Regions from separate parts of the Homo sapiens genome. Here region 1 is linked to region 2. The links come from fine-mapping of genetic effects on gene expression. A gene starts in region 2. The other region holds a variant in brackets. All regions are shown on one strand. Distances are from middle to middle.

Region 1 (5,376 bases), 560 kb after region 2:
AAACTCAGCCTAAAATCTCATTTAATTACAGAGCATTGACTACCATGGACCTCTTGCATCTGGACCCAGGAATAATAGAGAACATTTTCTCTGAATGGTTTGTAGTGTTCAGGATAGAAACACAGGTAGTTCAATTTTTAACATTTGGTTAAAACGCAAAAAGCAAAAGTTCACAGATGGTTAGCTCAGCCTATTAAATAATTTTACCAAAGTTCCTTGATTCTCTTTTTCTTTGGAGGCTTAAAAAGTGCAATTTCTTTCCCTTTTGGATGCGGAGGTGAAAGGGCACAAAATGACTTAGTTCATCTGTAAATGACCGTAACAATAGTCCCTACCTCAGAAGTTACCATGGAGAGGAAGCCAGATAACATGAGTGAAAGGACATCCCAAAATATCAAATGCTATTCAATGTTAGTTAAATAGTATTATTATCATTACTCATTTACTCCTTTATTTATTTTTAAAAATAACCTTTTGAGCACCTACTAAGAACGAAGCACAGTTCTATATGAAGAAAATGTAGTGGTGAATATGGCAGACATGACTTCTGCTCTAATGCAATTTCCATTCTACTGAGGCAGACAGATGAACAAATTAGATATTCCACAGAGAAAAGTACTGTGAAAAATATGAAACAGGATAATATGATAGACAGCGGCTGTGGCATTTCTTTGGAACAATCCCTCTGAAAAAGTAACATTTGAGCTGGAGACTAAATGAATTAAATGATAAAAGCAAGCCAGCCATTGGAAGAACATTCCAGAGAGAAAGTAAAGCAAATGCAGCGGCCCTAAGCTGGGCTGGATTGAGGACAAGAGAGGACCTCAGTGGCTCAGGGGCAGTGAGTGGGGAGAGACAAACAAGCTGAGGCTTGAGGGAAGGCCTGTGGCCCAATAGGCAGGGCCAGCCTTGCAGGCCACAGCAGAAGCTGGACTAAATCCCAAGAGCTGTAAGAAGCCACTGGAGGATTTTAAGCAAGGAAGAGATAGATTCTGAGTTGTGTTTAAAATGAAAGTTACTCTGGCTCCTGTATGGAAAATGGATGAGTTGGGTGGTGGAGAGAAGAGTACCCAGAGTTGTAATAAAGACATGAATTAAGAGGCTATTACAATAGCTGAGGAGAGAGGAATGATGGCGGCAGTAGGGCGGTTGCAAGAAGACAGAAAAACAGGCAATCAAAGTAGAGGGGTCAGGCTGGAAGCTTCATAGATGACCTAGAGTTCCAGGCAGAAGTTCAGGGTAGACTTGTAAAAGTCATCAGCAAAGTATTGTAGTGACTGAATTGTCCAACCCATGGCTCACAGGTTGCATGCAGCCCAGGATGGCTTTGAATGCGCCCAACACAAATTCATAGACTTTCTTAAAACATTATGAGTTTTTTTTTGTTTGTTTTTTGTTTTTGAGCTAGAGACTCACTCTGTCACGTAGGCTGGAGTGCAGTGGCGCAATTTCGGCTCACTGCAAACTTTGCCTCCCAGGTTCAAGCAATTCTCCTGCCTCAGCCTCCCAAGTAGCTGGGATTACAGGCATCCACCACCATGCCTGGCTAATTTTTGTATTTGTAGTAGATACAAGGTTTCACCATGTTGGCCAGGCTGGTCTTGAACTCCTGACCTCAGGTGATCCACTCGCCTTGGCCTCCCAAAGTGCTAGGATTATAGGTGTGAGCCACTGCACCTGGCCAAAACATTATGAGATCTTTTTGCAATTTTCTTTTAGCTCATCAGCTATGGTTAGTGTTAGTATATATTACATGTGGCCGAAGACAATTCTCCTTCTTCTTCTTCTTCCGGTGTGGCCCAGGGAAGCCAAAAGATTGGACACCCCTGATTTAGAGGAAAACAGAGGAGGAAAATCCAGCAAAGGAGCAACCAACAAGAGGCAGGGAGAAATCTAGGAAAGTATGCTCTAAGAGCCAAGAGAAGAAAGTGCTAAGGAGGGGCAGTTAAGAAGGAAGGAAGTGGTCAATGAGACAAGCGTAGTTGGAATAAGGAGGAAGATGAGTACCCAGAAGAGGTCATTGGATTTGGTAATGTGGAAATCATGGATGACCTTTAAAAGGAAACTAAACTCTAATTAAGGTGGGCTGGGAAAACACCTGAGGAATGTAGAAAACAATTTTAGACAACTCTTCTGCAAAGTTTTACTATGAAGGATCAAAGAAATGAAACATAGGTCAAAAATATTCTTGTTAGAGGCATATGAAAAAATGCTCAACATCACTAATCATCTAAGAAATGCAAATTAAAACTACAATGAGCTATCATCTCATCACATTTAAAATGGCTTTCATCCAAAAGACAGGCAATAATGAATTCTGGCAAGGATGTGGAGAAAAGAAAACCCCTGTGCACTATTGGTGG[GA/A]CTTTTCCCACTTACTCATCAAAGATTGATGAGTACATCAACTTTGGAGAAAAGTATGAAGGTTCCTCAAAAAACTAAACATAGAACTACCATATGGCCAGAAATCCCACTGCAGGGTATATACCCGAAAGAAAGAAAATCAGTATATCGAAGAGATATCTGCACCCTCATGTTTATTGCAGCGCTATTCACAATAGCCAAGATATGGAATCAACCCATGCCATCAACAAACAAGCAGATAAAGAAAATGTGGTACAAACATATACACAATGGAATATTATTTAGCCAGAAAAGGAATAAAATCTTGTCATTCGCAACAACATGGATGGAACTGGAGGTCATTATGTTAAGTGAAATAAGCTAGACACAGAAAGATAAATATCACATGTTCTCACTAATATGTGGGAGCTAAAAAAAAATGAACTCATGCAGATAGAGAATAGAATGATGATTAGCAGAGGCTAGAAAGGGGAGCGGGGAAGGAGGGAATAAAGATGAGGTGGTTAATGGGTACAGAAATACATTTAGAGGAATAAGATCTAGTGTTCAGCAGCACAACAGAATGACTATAGTTAATAATTAATCATATATTTCAAAATAACTAAAAGAGTGGAATTAGAATGTTCCTAACACAAAGAAATGATAAATGCTTGAGGTGATAGATATCCCAATTACTCTAGTTTTGGGCTCAAGGAGTTCAAGGCTGCTGTGAACTCTTATTGTGCCACTGCACTCCAGCGAGAGTGACAGAGCAGAAGACCCTGTCACAAACAACAACAACAACAAAACTAGTCAATAACTTTGTTTTTTATTGCTTTGGTGTTTTCTACCTATACTATGCACAAAATAAAAATGGTTGGCTGACTTTCCCTTGAGAAACATTTCAACCGGAAGCATTAGGTAAAGTCACTAAATACTGGGTCATCTTGAAATTTACACATGTCACTAAAATAATACTGTGTGGATAAAGACAAATCAACAGTTTAAGTGAAAAGCAGAAACAACCCCCATGACAATCCTAAACAGAGATTTTTTTTAAGCATTCAATTTTATAAAAGAAAAACAGAGTAGCAGGTTTTTTTAGCTGCCAAGTCAGTTTCATCAGATACTCCTTCACCATACATTTAATTTCATCTAAAAAATTTTGTCACCTAAGTGAGTAAGATAATTTTCTTAATCAAAATATAAAAATGCCAAAGAGGTAGCTTGAATAATGATAGAATACAGTCCTTCATTTATAGTTTTAGTCATATTTTATAAAGTGCCTATAGGAAGTACTCTAGGGAAAGGAAACTAACCTTTTGCTTACTTACCATGTGCTAACCACTATACTTGATGCTATATTTACATTAACTTGCTTAGTACTCACTACTACCCTACAAGATATAACCTGTCTACAATTTAGAAATGAAAAGACTGGCTCAAAGTTTAATAAAACCAATTCAGGTTTACATAGTGATATTGGTGGAGTAGCAGATTTGACCTCAGGTCAGTCTGTCTAAAGGTGCTTCTCACTTCTTTACATTACTTATTTTACATACACGAGAGCAAGATAAGCAGACCATTTCCACCCCACACAAGGCTGAGTATCATAAGATACACTCCTGTACATGTCGAATCCTTTTGTAGAATTTTACACATTTGTTTAACGATAAATTCCTCCTTAGAATCTACAGTCTGTAGGCTCCATGAGGTCAGATCCTCTCACTTACTACTTTATAAAACCTCTGTACTTTGCACATAGTACTTGCTCAAATATCTATTAACTGATACCCTTTAAGGAGATTCATAACTTAAAGAAAATACCAGATGAATATACAGTGATTCAACATCCACAAAGCAAGCTACTATCTGTCAGGAGACTCATGTCTTGAAAGGTAGCCTGTCTCTGATACAACTCTAAGGCAGATTTTGCCAGGTACATGAAGGTCAGCAAATTCTGTGCCTTTCATTCCTGCCAAACCTGGTCACGACCTCAAAATGTAAGCTTCTCCTGACAGCTGTCCTCTTCAGTCAGTTTAGCTCCTCTGCGCTTCCCCTCTTCTGACCCAGCCCCAATTCCTCCTCTCCTTCAAAAGCATCTGACCCAGCCCCAATTCCCCCTCTCCTTCAAAAGCATCATGTCCCATAACCGTTTGAAACTTGTTTCAGAGTAAACAGACTTCCCTCTACTCTTAGCTGCTACATAGAACACATGCTACACTCCTCACCTTACTGAAATTTGATGCATCTCCCAAGGCTACTGCTGTGGTGGCCCTCTCAAGGGCCATATTCCCATGTTCCATATTTGGTAGTTCTAAGAGGTGGCTCCTGTGTTCTTTTCACTCCCCAGTGCAGCTTTCAAACCAATATTTCCAAGTCCTGGAGTCTAAAAAAAGTTTGTTGTTTGAGAATAATGGCAACTCCTCCCCTTCAACCGTCAACCACCAACCACCTAGTCATGGTTTTAGTCAAAAATTTTGGCCCCTGAATCATAATACTTATCTCTACCTAAGTCCTGTCCAGGTAACTATCCCAATCAATATCCATATGTGACATGTGCTTACCTTATAAACCCCACTCCACTTCCTCACCTACTCTCATACCTCAGACATTGGCATCATTCTCTAAAGTAATGAATTTCAGTGTGTCACTGTCTAATAACAGGATCTTTCCAGCTTTAACTCCCTCATTCCCACTATGCCTATCCTGGAACTTCAATTCTCTCCTTTCTCTCCATCCTTTTGTGTTCAGCCTAGACCTCATGATCCATCGTGTCATCCCTCTTTAACACTCTTCCCCACAACCTTGTCCCACATCCTTCTGTCACTCTATCCTTGTAAAATCCTATCTTTAACTTCCATGGTCTACTGGCTCATAATAGAGAATACACATTCACAGTGCATGTTGGTGTCCCTTCACATTCTAGATGTTTAATTTTTGCTTGGTTTTCAGCATAACCTATAAATCCTTTATATATTCCTAGCCAGTTTTCTCTCCTTAAATAATAATTTCAAAACCTCATCAATCTTC
Region 2 (5,376 bases):
AAAGGGCATGGGAATTGAGAGAAAGATGTATTGGAAGTACAGAGAAAGAAAGCCACCTGGAAGTGAACTCTAACACTAAGGACCAGTTGGTGTCTGGCCAGTGACTGAGCTTGGGGTTTGCCATTTGCGCAATGTTGCTCGAGGACACTGGGTGGCGCTCGTGGTAAAGACTTGCACTTATCTTAGGGCTTCCCTCCCGCTACTTCCCCTTCCCTCCCTTTGCAGATTTCAGCTACTAAAAGATGAAATTACTTACATTCTTCCTACGTGTCTCAGCGGGAAGCGCACTGCTGGAAGAGTTTGATGCCGTGGGGCTGTTTCTCCACGGCTGGATTTGTCGGTGGATTTTGAGAGGCAATAGCGTCCAGCCCGCTGGCCTTAGGACAAAGCTGGAGGCCCTAGTGTGAGAACTCCCTCACAACACCAGCAAAAGTTTGCTGCTCCGAGAGCCGGGATACTGGCCGGTGTATGTCCTGAGCGTGGGTCCGAAGCCGCAGACAGGCCCGCAGAGCAGCCGGCAGTGCACAGAGCTACAATGCCTATATTGTGAAATTAAATAAAACTGTACTGTGAACAGACTCTCCGCTGCTTTTAACTTAGTGCTTCCTCTCCCTCCCGGCTGCCTTTAAGGAAGGGGTGGAGTGGGGAGTGGGGTCAACCTTGAAAAGAGGAACAAAATCAAGAAAGTTGAGGCTCTGGACCTGTAGAGACACATCCAGATTTGGTCTCACCCAGCAGCAGAATGGCTCAAGTCTGCGTGAGGGCCAACGTTCTAACGCTTTAGGAACCGAAACAAAGAAGTTAAATTCTTCCCTCCCGGCCCACTCCTTTTTGTCTTTTATGAAATGTGGGAAAGAATGTCCATTTTGACTGCGGGGTTTTGGGGGGGTGAAATTTAGCAAGGTCTAGAACTAATTTGACATTGTAACATTATTTTCAATCGGATCCCGAACTTCTAAATTTTGCCCCAATTCTGCAGCTTCCAATCCCATCCTGGTTAGAATCTGCCATCTCAGCAAGGTGTAAGGGCATTGCTAGGAACACCCTGTTCAGTATAACCATGTGGTAACTCAAATCTCTATTTAACCAAAAGTGTCGAAGATAGGGGACCAGAGGAAGGGAGGCCTGGCTCCCTGCCCACTTGTCTTTGCCGGGAGGTGCTTTGAACTGTCCTTGGCATTGATCTGAGGAAGCGATTTCTGTAATTAAATGGCAGTGTGTATCAGGTGACTCGATGGGCGCCGATAACTTCTCCAGAGCAGAGCCCAGGACCGCAGACCCATGTTTCCCTCCTGTTCTTTAGCTCCTCACAGCCTACATCTAGACGGTTAACAGCCTGTCGGTAATCGACAGCGTCAAGTCAGGGCTGGCTGGCAGCTGCAGCTCTGTTTACCCCGAAGTCTATCTCAGAGAAGCCCGCGGCAGCCCAGGCCCAAAGCTCGTGACTCGGGCCAGTGGGAGAAGGAGAATGCTGCTGGGCGCCAGTCTCCCGGTGCTGAAGTTTCCCCCGAAAGGAAGTGCGACAATAGCTGTGTTTTTCTGGTGCAGTCCAGACCGCAAAGGCAGGGAGTTGGTGCACGCACGGCAGCTCTGCTTTGGAGTTCCTGAGCGGGGCTGTATCTTGCTCTGAGTTCCAGACACCCTACCTCTACCCGTCGGCCTGTTTTAGGCCGAGTGGCTCCACACTCCAAGTAAGGCTAAACTAATACTAGACACAACTAACACAGACGCTTTCTTCTTCGGTAGGAGGGAAAACGGAGGGGAGGCCAGATAACCCTAGATAGCCTGTGGAACTCCCAGATTGCCGGTCTTGGACCCCGTAAAGGAAGATGTAGGAAGGCCCCAAATCAGGATCTAGTCCGCGGAGTTGCCTATTTGAGGGGAGTAACAATGGGGATTGGGAGAGACTTTTATGCTGAATTTCTAAACTCCCAGCTGAATCACGACTAGAACAAGGATAGCACCTCCTGAAGAGCAAAGTTTAGATCTCGTGTATCAACTGAATGATTCTTGAATCCTTTCTTCCCTTGCATACGAGCTAAGTAGGATGTCTTTGCAGCAGGAAATAAAGGGGAGAGGGTACAGAAACCCGGGTCTGGGAAATGGAGAGACTGGGCCACATTCATGGAGCCAGGAGGGGGAAATCAATGAGCATCATCTGACTTTGCAAAGGCTTTGATCCTTGTCTCCTTCCCCACTTCCGAGACTTTCCCATTCTTTCCTGGAGGTATGGCAGGTTATACATGGATCCATTCACCTTTGCGGGAGTCTTTGGCCACTGAACATAGTTAAAGAGCCTTTATTCCAATGTCTTGAAAATAGATGAAAATATTAAACAGAAGTGGAGCTGTTTGGCTCTTTTTGCAAGCCAGCAACGAGGATTTGGGCTTCCTTAAGTTATATGTGTTTAAGACAGTAATTTTTAAAAGTCATTATAAGGACTTTGGGCTGCAGGAACTCTCCCTGCCATTCACCGGCTTAATGGACATTGTGCCTTCTTGGGCATTCCTGTCCAGCCCGCGTCCGGGAGATACTCATCTCCTGCAAAGGAAGTTGCCTCTTTCCCCAAAGAGCAAATTTTCAAAACATGTAAGTTACAACTTGCTTCCCAACACTCCACTAAAAAAAAAAAAAATGCTGTTTCCCTTCCTTCTTGCCTCCATCCTACATCCCCCCGCTCCCCACTCCCTGCACCTTGACTCCCTATTTCAGTATCAGTGTTTAATTCTACACTCGCCTTTGGTGCAGCCCACGGGGGCGGGGTAGTGGGAAGCAAGGAAAGATGGTCGCCCACCTCATTCCCAAAACATGTGCACTTTTGAGGCTTCTGATTGGAACACATTGTCCCCAGACATCACAGAGCCTTGTGCTGTGGCTTCTGCGATGTCTTTGGAATTTACTAAAAACAGATAGACTAAGACCCCTCCCCACTCCACAACAAGCAAAAACACACACAAGCGCGCGGGCGCGCACACACACAAACACACACACCCCCTCAGTACCCCCCACCCCCTTTTTAAGCAATGCTTTGTTGTGCTAAAACTAGTTGGACGAGTTAGGGTGTTACTGTTGCTCCCGAGGCCCTGGCCAATAGAACCAGATCCACCCCGCTGTGCGTAAGCGCGCAATTAAGGATTTAACCAAGGCTGTGCTGCGCCTCAGCCAGCAGTCAGCCGGCCGGAGACAGAGACTTCACGACTCCCAGTCTCCTCCTCGCCGCGGCCGCCGCCTCCTCCTTCTCTCCTCCTCCTCTTCCTCCTCCTCCCTCGCTCCCACAGCCATGTCTGCTTAGACCAGAGCAGCCCCACAGCCAACTAGGGCAGCTGCCGCCGCCACAACAGCAAGGACAGCCGCTGCCGCCGCCCGTGAGCGATGACAGGAGTGTTTGACAGAAGGGTCCCCAGCATCCGATCCGGCGACTTCCAAGCTCCGTTCCAGACGTCCGCAGCTATGCACCATCCGTCTCAGGAATCGCCAACTTTGCCCGAGTCTTCAGCTACCGATTCTGACTACTACAGCCCTACGGGGGGAGCCCCGCACGGCTACTGCTCTCCTACCTCGGCTTCCTATGGCAAAGCTCTCAACCCCTACCAGTATCAGTATCACGGCGTGAACGGCTCCGCCGGGAGCTACCCAGCCAAAGCTTATGCCGACTATAGCTACGCTAGCTCCTACCACCAGTACGGCGGCGCCTACAACCGCGTCCCAAGCGCCACCAACCAGCCAGGTACATGGACAGGGGGAAGGCTGGGCAGATACAGGGCGACTAGGACGCTGGGGGCGCGAGATGGGGTGGTAGATTGGGGGTCACAGCGGTTCACGGCAGTGGGGGCGCACGCGGCAGAAGGGAGTAGGACTCAGACCCTCCAACAAAGAGAGTTTCTCGGGCCAGCATTTTAGGGATTTTTAGTAGGAGAGCCCTGTGGAGGTTCGAACTAGCGTCTCTCCCCTCCGGCACCTTCCAAGGCCCTTCAGTCGCTGAATTCCCAGCTTGCCCGGCCAGGAAGCCGGCTAGGCTGGAAAGGGGATAGGGGTGGAGAGAAGAAAGAATCAAGCAGCTCCTGGCGTTTGCGTAACAAAGAGAAGGTTACTTGGGAATTTTGGTAAGCGTGCTGGGTTGGTGCGAGTGGGAATAGAAGGCTGCCTCAAAAACTCAGTCAGGATTAGTTTGAGAGCCGCCACAAGCTAGCACGGTGCGGGTGCCCTGAGCACGCTGGGTGGGGGTGGGGGGGTTAAGGAGTTGTAGCCAGCCAGAGAAGAGCGCGCCGAGAGTTTTGCGGTTTATCCAGGCATTTCCAAAAACAAAAAGCCATTTAAAGGTGGAGGAGGGTTGCTGAGGGGTCACGTTGTAGGATAGATTTTTTTTTCTGTCTCCATAGGCGCCCACAATTTGTCTTTCCGTCCTCCTTTTTCGTCCGCTTTGAAACTTACTTAGAGAGTTTAAGAGGGTTAGTGAGCTTGGGCGGTAAGAGAAAGGCATGAGGCTCGGCGGAGAGGTTTTATTGGTAAGGTTTGATCTCTTCCCACCAGCACATTAATAATCCTGCTAATATTAGCATCCCCTACTCTGGCAGAATTGAGACCACAGCCCTCATCCTCCACACTTCTCCCTGGAACTTGACACACACACACACACACACACACACACACACACACACCCTGGAGAGGTTCTCCGTCAGTTCCAGAGGGGTGGTAGTTTTGAGGAAGGGGAGTTGTAGCCCCAGGGCAGGTTTGTACAACACGCGTTTGGCAATCCCTCCCCCTCCCGCCCAAACCCATACTCATGACAGTGAGAATCTCATCCTGACCTGCCGCCCCTTTCCTACGAAAACACCCCACCACCGGTTCCTTCTCAGTGTGTGACTCTTGCTGAACTTTAAAAGAGAGCCCCGGGTTGAGGTGTCTACGTTTCTTTCACTCTCTCTGTATTCCGTGCATAAGTGGAAGATTTCTTTTTTTTTTTTTTTTTTTTGCCAAGAACATATTAAGTCTATTTGTAAAAGAAACCAGACACATCTGTGCCCTCGCAGATCTGCAGCGAGATTATGGGGGTTGCATAATCGACCCTCTGTCTGCGGCGGCCCCGACCGCTTGCTGCTGAAGTGAAGGAGCAGTTTGCTTGTGGGTCTTTGAACTTTGGAGACCTCGGTTAGCGTCTTCCCTGCCCAAGAGTCTGGCTTCTGCGGGCGCCCGAACAGACGCCGACAGAAGTAGGGTCACGGCCCAGGGCCACCTCCTTGAAGCCTGGGGAGGGGCTGGTGTTCTTGAAGCCTGGGGAGGGGCGGAAACGCGGAGGAGCACAGGGTGGGCGTAAAAACAAGTCCGGGAGAAGAAGCAACGACCGCAAGAGCTGAATCCCAGATGCCAAGGAGAAAG

Direction of the effects. Positions count from the first base shown, and alleles are read on the strand shown. Sizes are in standard deviations (SD) of each study's normalised expression.
For the expression in left ventricle of the gene that starts at base 3,165 in region 2, allele A in region 1 goes with a higher level than allele GA (large effect, 1.4 SD a copy in GTEx).

Evidence for each region.
Region 1: its variant is fine-mapped to the expression of DLX5 in left ventricle (GTEx, PIP above 0.99).

What each region holds. Positions count from the first base shown.
Region 1 is chr7:96,458,973-96,464,348 of GRCh38, reverse strand. The region is part of intron 1 of LOC105375411 (a long non-coding RNA gene); the gene reads right to left. Among named protein-coding and RNA genes, the nearest start is that of SLC25A13, 140 kb to the right of the region's middle. The variant GA/A (reference allele first, on the strand shown) is at 2,364.
Region 2 is chr7:97,022,620-97,027,995 of GRCh38, reverse strand. DLX5 (distal-less homeobox 5) reads left to right here and starts at 3,165. Exons shown (of 3, transcript NM_005221.6): 1 at 3,165-3,727. The coding sequence starts at 3,373. RefSeq lists enhancers at 223-422, 1,501-2,016, 2,943-3,659.